Linked DNA regions of Homo sapiens. The protein of the gene in region 1 purifies or fractionates together with the protein of each later gene. This does not show direct contact. Each region holds a gene or a part of one and is shown in the gene's direction. Other genes may lie near its edges.

Evidence for each region.
Region 2: the proteins of CASQ2 (region 1) and FBXW8 purify together in Homo sapiens (affinity purification with mass spectrometry; 3 studies listed by BioGRID and IntAct, with this or other methods). This does not show direct contact.

Annotation. Positions count from the first base shown.
Region 1 is NC_000001.11:115,765,582-115,770,405, reverse strand, and holds the start of CASQ2 (calsequestrin-2 precursor), read left to right. Parts: upstream 1-1,691; 5' UTR 1,692-1,864; coding exon 1,865-2,098; intron 2,099-4,824. UniProt on the Homo sapiens protein: Calsequestrin is a high-capacity, moderate affinity, calcium-binding protein and thus acts as an internal calcium store in muscle. Calcium ions are bound by clusters of acidic residues at the protein surface, especially at the interface between subunits.
Region 2 is NC_000012.12:116,983,950-116,987,449, forward strand, and holds part of FBXW8 (F-box/WD repeat-containing protein 8), read left to right. Parts: intron 1-1,233; exon of another isoform or gene 1,234-1,256; coding exon 1,257-1,453; intron 1,454-1,704; exon of another isoform or gene 1,705-3,388; intron 3,389-3,500. UniProt on the Homo sapiens protein: Substrate-recognition component of the Cul7-RING(FBXW8) ubiquitin ligase complex, which mediates the ubiquitination and subsequent proteasomal degradation of target proteins.

The DNA of each region.
Region 1 (4,824 bases):
GGGGAGGCTGACCTCAAAAAGACAAGACACACATTGTTTCACTCGGAAATCTTTTTCCCCTTAAATTTCCTAAAGAAAGCAGAGATCTTGCATGCTTGCCACTGACTTGGAAAGCTAAGTGCACCTTAGAATGGATATTCTTGGCTCCATCTTTTGAAAACTTAGAGACTACACCATTAGAAAGAACGGAATACCGTCAAGGGTTTTAGTGATGGGTTCTTCAAGGCCCCAACTTTCTGCACATGAGAGTGTAGCATCAAGACAACCCCTTATCAGCCTGACTCTCAGTGTAAGGCCGTCTGACTGCAGGGGAGCCTTGCTTTACTCAGAGAGGCCACGGATCTTCTCTTTGCCTTCTAGCCCCTGCAGAAGCTGTGCATGACAGAGTACTCTGTCTTTCCAAAGCTGATTTATAACTGAAGGAGAACAAAAACTTGGTCAGAATCATGAATGCCCTAGATGCCTTTGAAGAGTGGAGAGACATGACTGGACTAGGGTTGGACTGGAAGAGATGGTCAAGAAGGTACTTAAGAAAAGGGGTGTCTGCAAGGGAATCACCCAGAGTCAGAGGCAAAACAGCCAGGAGCAGCAGCTTTGAGGCAGGGTTGGATTCTTGCTCCGGCAGTTAGAAATGCTGCAAACTCAGACAAGTTGCTGTTAGCTCAGCGGTAGGATGAGCCCTGATCCCTTTTGCCCCAATTGCCTACTGGATTCAAGGAGAAAATGGACAAGAAAGGGTTCACAAACCATTCATATTAGAAACAGACAAATATCCATTATATAACCAATGTTCCACCAGCTCCAATGAGAAGTAAGTATAATAGCTACTATTTTTGAGCACCTATTTTGTGCCATGCTTTTTCATCTATGTGTTTGAAACTTTATGGTTATTATCAGCCCCACTTTACATAGAGGGGAACTGAGAATCAGAGAGGGCAAGTGACCCTCCAAAGTTCATTAGCTGTTAAAAGGCAGAGTAGGGATTTGAACTGTGAACCTTGTTTCATTTTAGTTTAATGAGGACAGGTTCTTCTGGTGTCAGCTGGGTTCAGCAGGGTGTCCCTGCACCCCTCGCCCAGTGGCTGGCAGAGGATTTTTAAGAAGAGAGGAGGGAAGGCAGAAAAAGACAGGAGTAGAACATGAAGAAGTCTACCTCGGGGCTCCATTTTGTTCCATGTTGCAGTGAGGAACAGAGGATGAACAACCACCGTGAGGGGACAGGCTGAGTTACCACCCTGGGGTGATTTAACAATTCAGTAATGTATGAGTGTCATTCCGTATGTTTGAACTCTCCATTTGCTTATTGGCACCATAGTCCCTTATCTCTCTCCCTCTCGAGTTTCTTTCTCTTCTTTGACCTTTCTAGCCTCCTTATTTCATGCGTGTACATTCTTGTCTTTTTCCTTCTGCCTCTTCCCTCTTCACCAGTCGGACAGACTGTATCAGCGAATCCCTCTACAGTGTCGTATCTAACTTTTTTATTCATTGCATGATTTATTTTTAGCCTGAAACAACTGCATCCTAAAAATGGAGTTCCTAATGAGACAGAGGCTGAGCAGAGCTATGTAAGGTATCTGGGGCTTGGCCTCCCAGCCTCCCTAGCTTGGCTGTTTTTCTACTCTCATGCGTGCGTGCGTGCGTGCGTGTGTGTGTGTGTGTGCCTCTGCTCTTTGTCCTGAGCCCACGATTCCAGAGCTGGCTGGACCCAAGGAGGTGAAGAGTCACTTTTCAGCCCCAGGAAGGGCAAAGAAGAGAGAAAATCAGCCTGTCTGCTCTCTCCTTGGCTCAACAAGGCCTCTAACAGTCTTCTGTCCTCTATTCTGCACACAGCATATTTGGGAACGAGAAACAAAAGTTTTCCCAAATGAAGAGAACTCACTTGTTTATTGTGGGGATTTATTTTCTGTCCTCTTGCAGGGCAGAAGAGGGGCTTAATTTCCCCACATATGATGGGAAGGACCGAGTGGTAAGTCTTTCCGAGAAGAACTTCAAGCAGGTTTTAAAGAAATATGACTTGCTTTGCCTCTACTACCATGAGCCGGTGTCTTCAGATAAGGTCACGCAAAAACAGTTCCAACTGAAAGAAATCGTGCTTGAGGTAAGTAACCAAAGGGCATGCTGTCTGCGCTGCCTCAGTGAGGTGCCGAGGGAATGCCTTTGGCCAGGGGTTGGGATATGGGAACGAGGATGCAGAGAATATATACTGAACTCTGCTTTATTTTGGCCTCACGTGAATCAGATGCCCTTGTCACACAGCTGGGATGTGTGAACAATGAGGGGTGGGTCCTAACTCTTCAAATGAAGAGGACCAAACGTGCTACACTACGATGGGTCTGATGTAAAGTCTTTATGGCCCCCTTGACTTTTCAAGGGCCCTTGTCCCAGCCATTGTTTCCCAGATAGAATGTAGAAACTATTGTTAAAACTGTTGGCTGAAATGAAATCCAGGGACTACTTGTGGATTTCATTCAGTGTGCCCACTTTGCTCCCTCAAATCTCCCCATGATCCTGGAGAGACCAGAGTTACTTGACCTTGCGTCTCTCTGGGGGTCAGACGGAGAATATCACTAAATGACTTTCCTCTCTCTTGTTTTGCGTCAGTCAGCATTACAGAATGTAGTTGTGTGCAGATCTTCTGAGCAGCATATTCATTTATGTGATTTTTTTTCTCAGAAAGTTCTTGGTGTGACTTTAGGGCAGAGCTGAAGTCAGTTCTTATTTTATCCGCATTACATGGCCTGCCTGTTTGTAACCTGGCACTGGGGCCCATTTTCTAATCCTTTGCGAGTGCCCCAGAAACTATTCCTGCAGCTCCTCCTGGACAGCTTAAGATGGCTTACACTTTAAGAGGGCCTGAGGGTGCCAAGAATGCTAGTGGGCACCAAGATGCCTCATCAGTCTCCACGCCTAGCCCAGGCGCAAACCTGTGAAAGGGATATTTGAGAATTACAGTTTATTAACCAGCACAATCAGAGAACTCAGGTTGATGAAATAGTTTAATAGGATTATCATATAAAACCCATGTGGATTTGAATTTTTTCAAATTGAAAAATTGACTGTAATAAAATCCAGCAAAACTATCCCAAATACATCAAAAGTATATCTCCAACCTTGGGTGCTGAATGTGGAATTTCAGTTCTCTCTGTGGGTTGCAAGAAAAGAGAAAGCAGGGATAGTTATTAAGACTTTATTTTATAGAAATGAGCAAATCACAGGCTGGAAAAGAACGAGACATAGAACTTAGCTGCTGCTTAGCACATGAAACCAACACTTACATTATATCTCCATCTCAAACTGCCATACTCAGTTATCAAGAGACATTGTTATGAAAACTTAATTGAAGGCATAAGGATTCTCCCCTATATGCTCATCGCTGTCCAGTTAGCCTAGAACTCCAAAAGAATGCCTTTGGGTGGCCAGTACAGGCAAGGACATTCATTTCTGATTCTAATTTTTTTTAAAAAAGAAATATCTTTCTATCATCCTTCTATCTATCTATCTATCTATCTATCTATCTATCTATCTATCTATCTATCTATCATCTCTAGCTCCCCCAAGTATATCTGTCCCCAAAGACTATGCAAAATCATGAACAGAAACTTCCCCTGGGCTTACCATCCCTCCAGACACCTTTGATCCAAGAGTGCCCTTTTCACAGTGGGTGCCGGCCCAGCAGAGACCGATAAGGAAAAGTTCACCACAGGAGTTAATTTGATGCCCCTCAGGCTGCTAAAGCTGGAGTGAGGCATCATTAGGAGAAAAAGAACACAGACCTTGAAGTCAGGATATCTGGATTTAAGTTCTGGCTTTGTCTCTACTAGGCACAGGACACAGGGCAAATTACGTAATTTCTCAGAGCTTCATTTTCTTATCTATAAATATGGAAAAATAGTAACTATCATGCAGCTTAAGAAATGATTAAATAATAATAATGTTGATTAAATGCTTACTAAGTGCAGGGACTGTTCTAAGCACTTGGTATGTGTTAGCTTGTTTAATCCTTACAATAATTCTATTAAGTAGGTACAGTTACCAATTCCATTTTATAGATGTGGAAACTGAAGCAGAGAGGCTAAGTTGTCCAAGGTCACACAGCTACTACAGATGAAGGCAGTTGTACGTAACACCTACACGGTACTACTCCTGAAATCAGTGCGAAAACGCCCAAGGGGCTTCTGGGTAGCCTGTTTAAGATGGTTTCAAGAGTCTTCCTTAAACAGAGTTGCTCAGCCTCTGGACCCGGGTCTGATGATGCCAGCTGTACACCAGCATGGCCGAGAAGTACATGGCCTGGAGGCGCTGCTCATGCAAAAGTGCAAACTGAGGAGGAGGCCTGGGCTCCATTAGTGAAGGTTGAGGAAGGGGCGGGCCTTTGTTGAGATACTTGTCAGGCGCAGCATCAAGGGAAAAAATGGCTCCGGGAAGTCCATGAGTGGAAAGAGCGAACATGCCTTTAAACTTTCTTCATGGTCAAAACATCTATTTTGTCCTCTTAATCCTCTAGACCCCACACTTGCACTAAGAAAAATAGTCTGTCAGCTTCCAGGGCTGTGGCTGTTAGGGGGTAGGGGGAAAAGAGGAGGCAGTTCCCAGTGTCCATCCAACAGGCAGTGTGGTCTCAGCCACGGACAAATAGCTGGAGGGGAGGCAGCTCCCTTCCCCCTCGCAGCTTAAGGCGGCTTCTGACACTTTTTATCATAACCGACTATGACCCAGTATATACAGACACACACAGACACACACACACACCAGAAACAAAAATTTCATATGAACTATACTTATTATTATTACTTGGGGAATTAAATTTTTTTTTCTATTTTTATC
Region 2 (3,500 bases), on another chromosome or scaffold:
CCGTCAGCTAACAAGTGCTGGAGCTGGATTTGAACTCAAATAGTCACAAACTGTTATCTCCACACATTTATTTCTTGGTGAATTTTGAAAAATTGAATCAATTGGAATTGGAGCAAGGCATTAACCAGCCTAATGCAGAGAGTAATCATTTTCTTGGGTAAATCTTCGAAGGGAAGGAAATAGCTTGGGAATGATAAAAAGAAATTATTTTTGAGGAAAGAAGAATCAATGAAATGCTAAGTACAGAAAAGGTTATCTGACTGGAAAAGCATAAGCTCCTGTAGACCACTGGTCCTAAACTCCAGTGGACATCCCCAGAGTTACTGGTGCCTGACAGTCTGCATTTCTAATAAGTCGCCACGTGGTACTGATGCTACCGGTCTGGAAACCACCCTGGAGAAAGGGTGTGTGGCCAGTGTGTGAAAGAGGAATTAATCTGGGTAGCAGCATTCCAGGTGCTGGGAGAAGAGTGGAAAATCGGCATTTTTGGCAAGTGTGGGATATTGAAGCACAGGTTTTAGAGCTGTGCAAAATAAAGCACTGCTGCTAACAGAGGCTTTAGGAGGATGGCGCTGAGGAAGGATGTGAAATTCAGGCTGAGCATCCCTAATCCAAAATTCCAAAATGCTTTGAAACTGTTTAAGCACTGACATGATGCTACATGTAGGAAATTTCACATCTAACTTCATGTGATGGGTTTGTAGCCAAAACACAGCCAAAACTTTGCTTCATGCACAGAATTATTTAAAATATTGTATAGACCAGGTACGTTGGCTCACACGTGTAATTCCAACACTTTGGGAGGCAGAGGCAGGAAGATTGCTTGACCCCAGTAGTTCAAAAAAGCAGCCTGGGCAACATAGTGAGACTGTGTCTCAGCTAAATTAAAAATTAGCTGGGTATGGTGGCACACGCCTGTAGTCCTGTCTATTTGGGAGGCTGAAGCAGGAAGATCACTTAGGCCCATCAGTTCAAAAATGCAGTGAGCTATGATAGCACCACTGCACTCCAGCCTGGGCGAAGAGTGAGGCACTGTTTCTAAAAAATAAAAAAGTAAAATAAAATATTGTATAAAATTACCTTCAGGCCATGTGCATCAGGTATATATGAAACGTAAGTGATTTCGTGTTTAGACTTGGGTCTCATTTCCAAGGTATCTCCGTTAAAAAATTTTCCTTTGTGTTGCATGTTTTTAAAATAATTGAACATATTAAGTAAATTTAAAATTGTTACCTGCATTGTTTCTTGCTGCATAGGGTTTCTTAATATTTGGGATTTAAGGACCGGAAAGTACCCTGTTCATCGTTTTGAGCACGATGCAAGAATACAGGCACTAGCCCTCAGCCAGGACGATGCAACCGTGGCCACAGCTTCTGCTTTTGATGTCGTGATGTTATCCCCCAATGAGGAGGGGTACTGGCAGATAGCTGCGGAATTTGAAGTTCCGAAACTGGTGAGCTTTTTAGTCTGGTCATCTTATTTTCTATTCTTAGAATCTCTGGGTCTAATGTAAGCACGTACTAATGGTGTTGGTAACTCCCATTCACTCAGAGCTTCCTGCGGGCCTTACCTCCATAAGTCTAACTACAGCCTTACAAAATAGGTAGTAGCATTTTCCCCATTTACCAAGAAGCCACTTCAGGCTGCTTAGAGCAGTGAACTGACTTGCCCCAGTTCTCAGAGGTAAGAAGTTACGATTCAAACCTCAGGGCTGACTTCAGGGCCAGAGCTGCTCATCACTGTGGTTCCTTGGCCTTCTTCAGACTAACACGGTGGAATCTCACCCTTGGGAATCAAAGATCAGTTTGACCTAATATATAAGTGAGAATGAGTTCAGTGGTGTTATCCCAGTCCATCTGGGAAGGAAGGTTTCCATTCCTACACTTTCTTCATCCCAAGACTGTCTCACCTGAAATTTAAAGTAACTCTTGCGTGAAGATAGATTTAAGTTGGTGTTAATTGGGTAGCCATGTTCCAGGATGTCATGTGTGCAGCTCAGCCAGCCTTAAGAATTCTTTATGTCGAGCTTATTTCTGAGTTCATTGGTACAGGAACCTCTAGATTTGTAGAGTGGGAGATGATTTGGTGTTAAGAAGGAAGTGCTCAAATCTGTCTATGCTGAGTTAGGATTTAATTTAAACAAACTTGATTTTGGCACTGGTAGGAGAGTGAGCAGAAAAGCCAACACTGAGTGATGAATTGAGGGCCTGACCTGGAACCAATCCTGTTCCTCCCTCTTTCTGTCTGTTGGGAATCTTCTTAGACTAGAATAACTTAGAAAGCCATGGCATCACTGCTTCACCTCCAGGAGCGTCTGCACTTTGAGTATAGTGCTCCCCTAAAATGGCCTGATGCTGTCAGCTCATCTGGGTTTTATTAGAAAAATGTGAAAGTACATTTCTGTTCTCAAAACTTCCATAGTACTTACTATTTAGTCTGTGATTAAAGAATACTGTGTCACAAGGTCAGGAGATCGAGACCATCCTGGCTAACACGGTGAAACCACGTCTCTACTAAAAATACAAAAAATTAGCCGGGCGTGGTGGTGGGCGCCTGTAGTCCCAGCTACTCAGGAGGCTGAGGCAGGAGAATGGCGTGAACCCAGGAGGCGGAGCTTGCAGTGAGCCGAGATCGCCACTGCAGTCCAGCCTGGGCAACAGAGCGAGACTCCGTCTCAAAAAAAAAAAAAGACAAAAAAACAACAAAAAAACGAATACTGTAGACCAGCAATCACTGTATGGACCCAGATACTTACTTAAGATGCCAGTTTCTCTGTAAAGTGCAAATCCTGCCTTGGCAATAAGGTGGCATCCTGGCACAGACTGGAAGCTTTTTGAACTAGTTTACAGCCCCCAGCAAATGGCACCACCACTGTCAATCTGAGCCTCTTGGTCTGTCAGAAAGCCAACACGGAGATAAAGTTAAAGGGCTAGACGGAGGATATCAGTTGTAGGAAAATGAGACATGATTTGGGGGAGTGAGAGGAACCGAGCAGCCATTGTTCAAGGCGGGTTTTATGCACGTTTTAGGAATTATTTTTCACTTTGAGTGAAAGGTTCCCACAAAATGCTCTGAGTATCCTTGGAAAAGGCACCCCTGGCCCGAAGAGCCAAGCCAGTTTTGTCTTGTCCATATACGCCCCTGAATGGCAGTGGCAGTGTTCCCAGGTCTGCGATATTAGCCTAGTGCGGCTGTCCTTTGTGATGGACCCGCAGCTTGCGGAGCTGGGCCCGAGTATTAGCAGAGTCCCCCGGATGTTGACGCTCCCTCCAGCTCTTCTGGACCGTGTTCTGGAGGCCGGCTTTGAACTCTTTGGCATATGGTCAGGGCAGCGCTGTCCTTTCACACTGTGGATTTTCATAATTAGTGTGGCTCACCTTCTATGTGTCCTCTCGTGATTTACTCGCAGAGGCGAAAGCCTGTTGCGAACGGCACCGCGGAGAAATGGGCCGCCTGTGGATGGACAGAATCAAATTATTCTTGAAAAGTGCGTCTCAGAC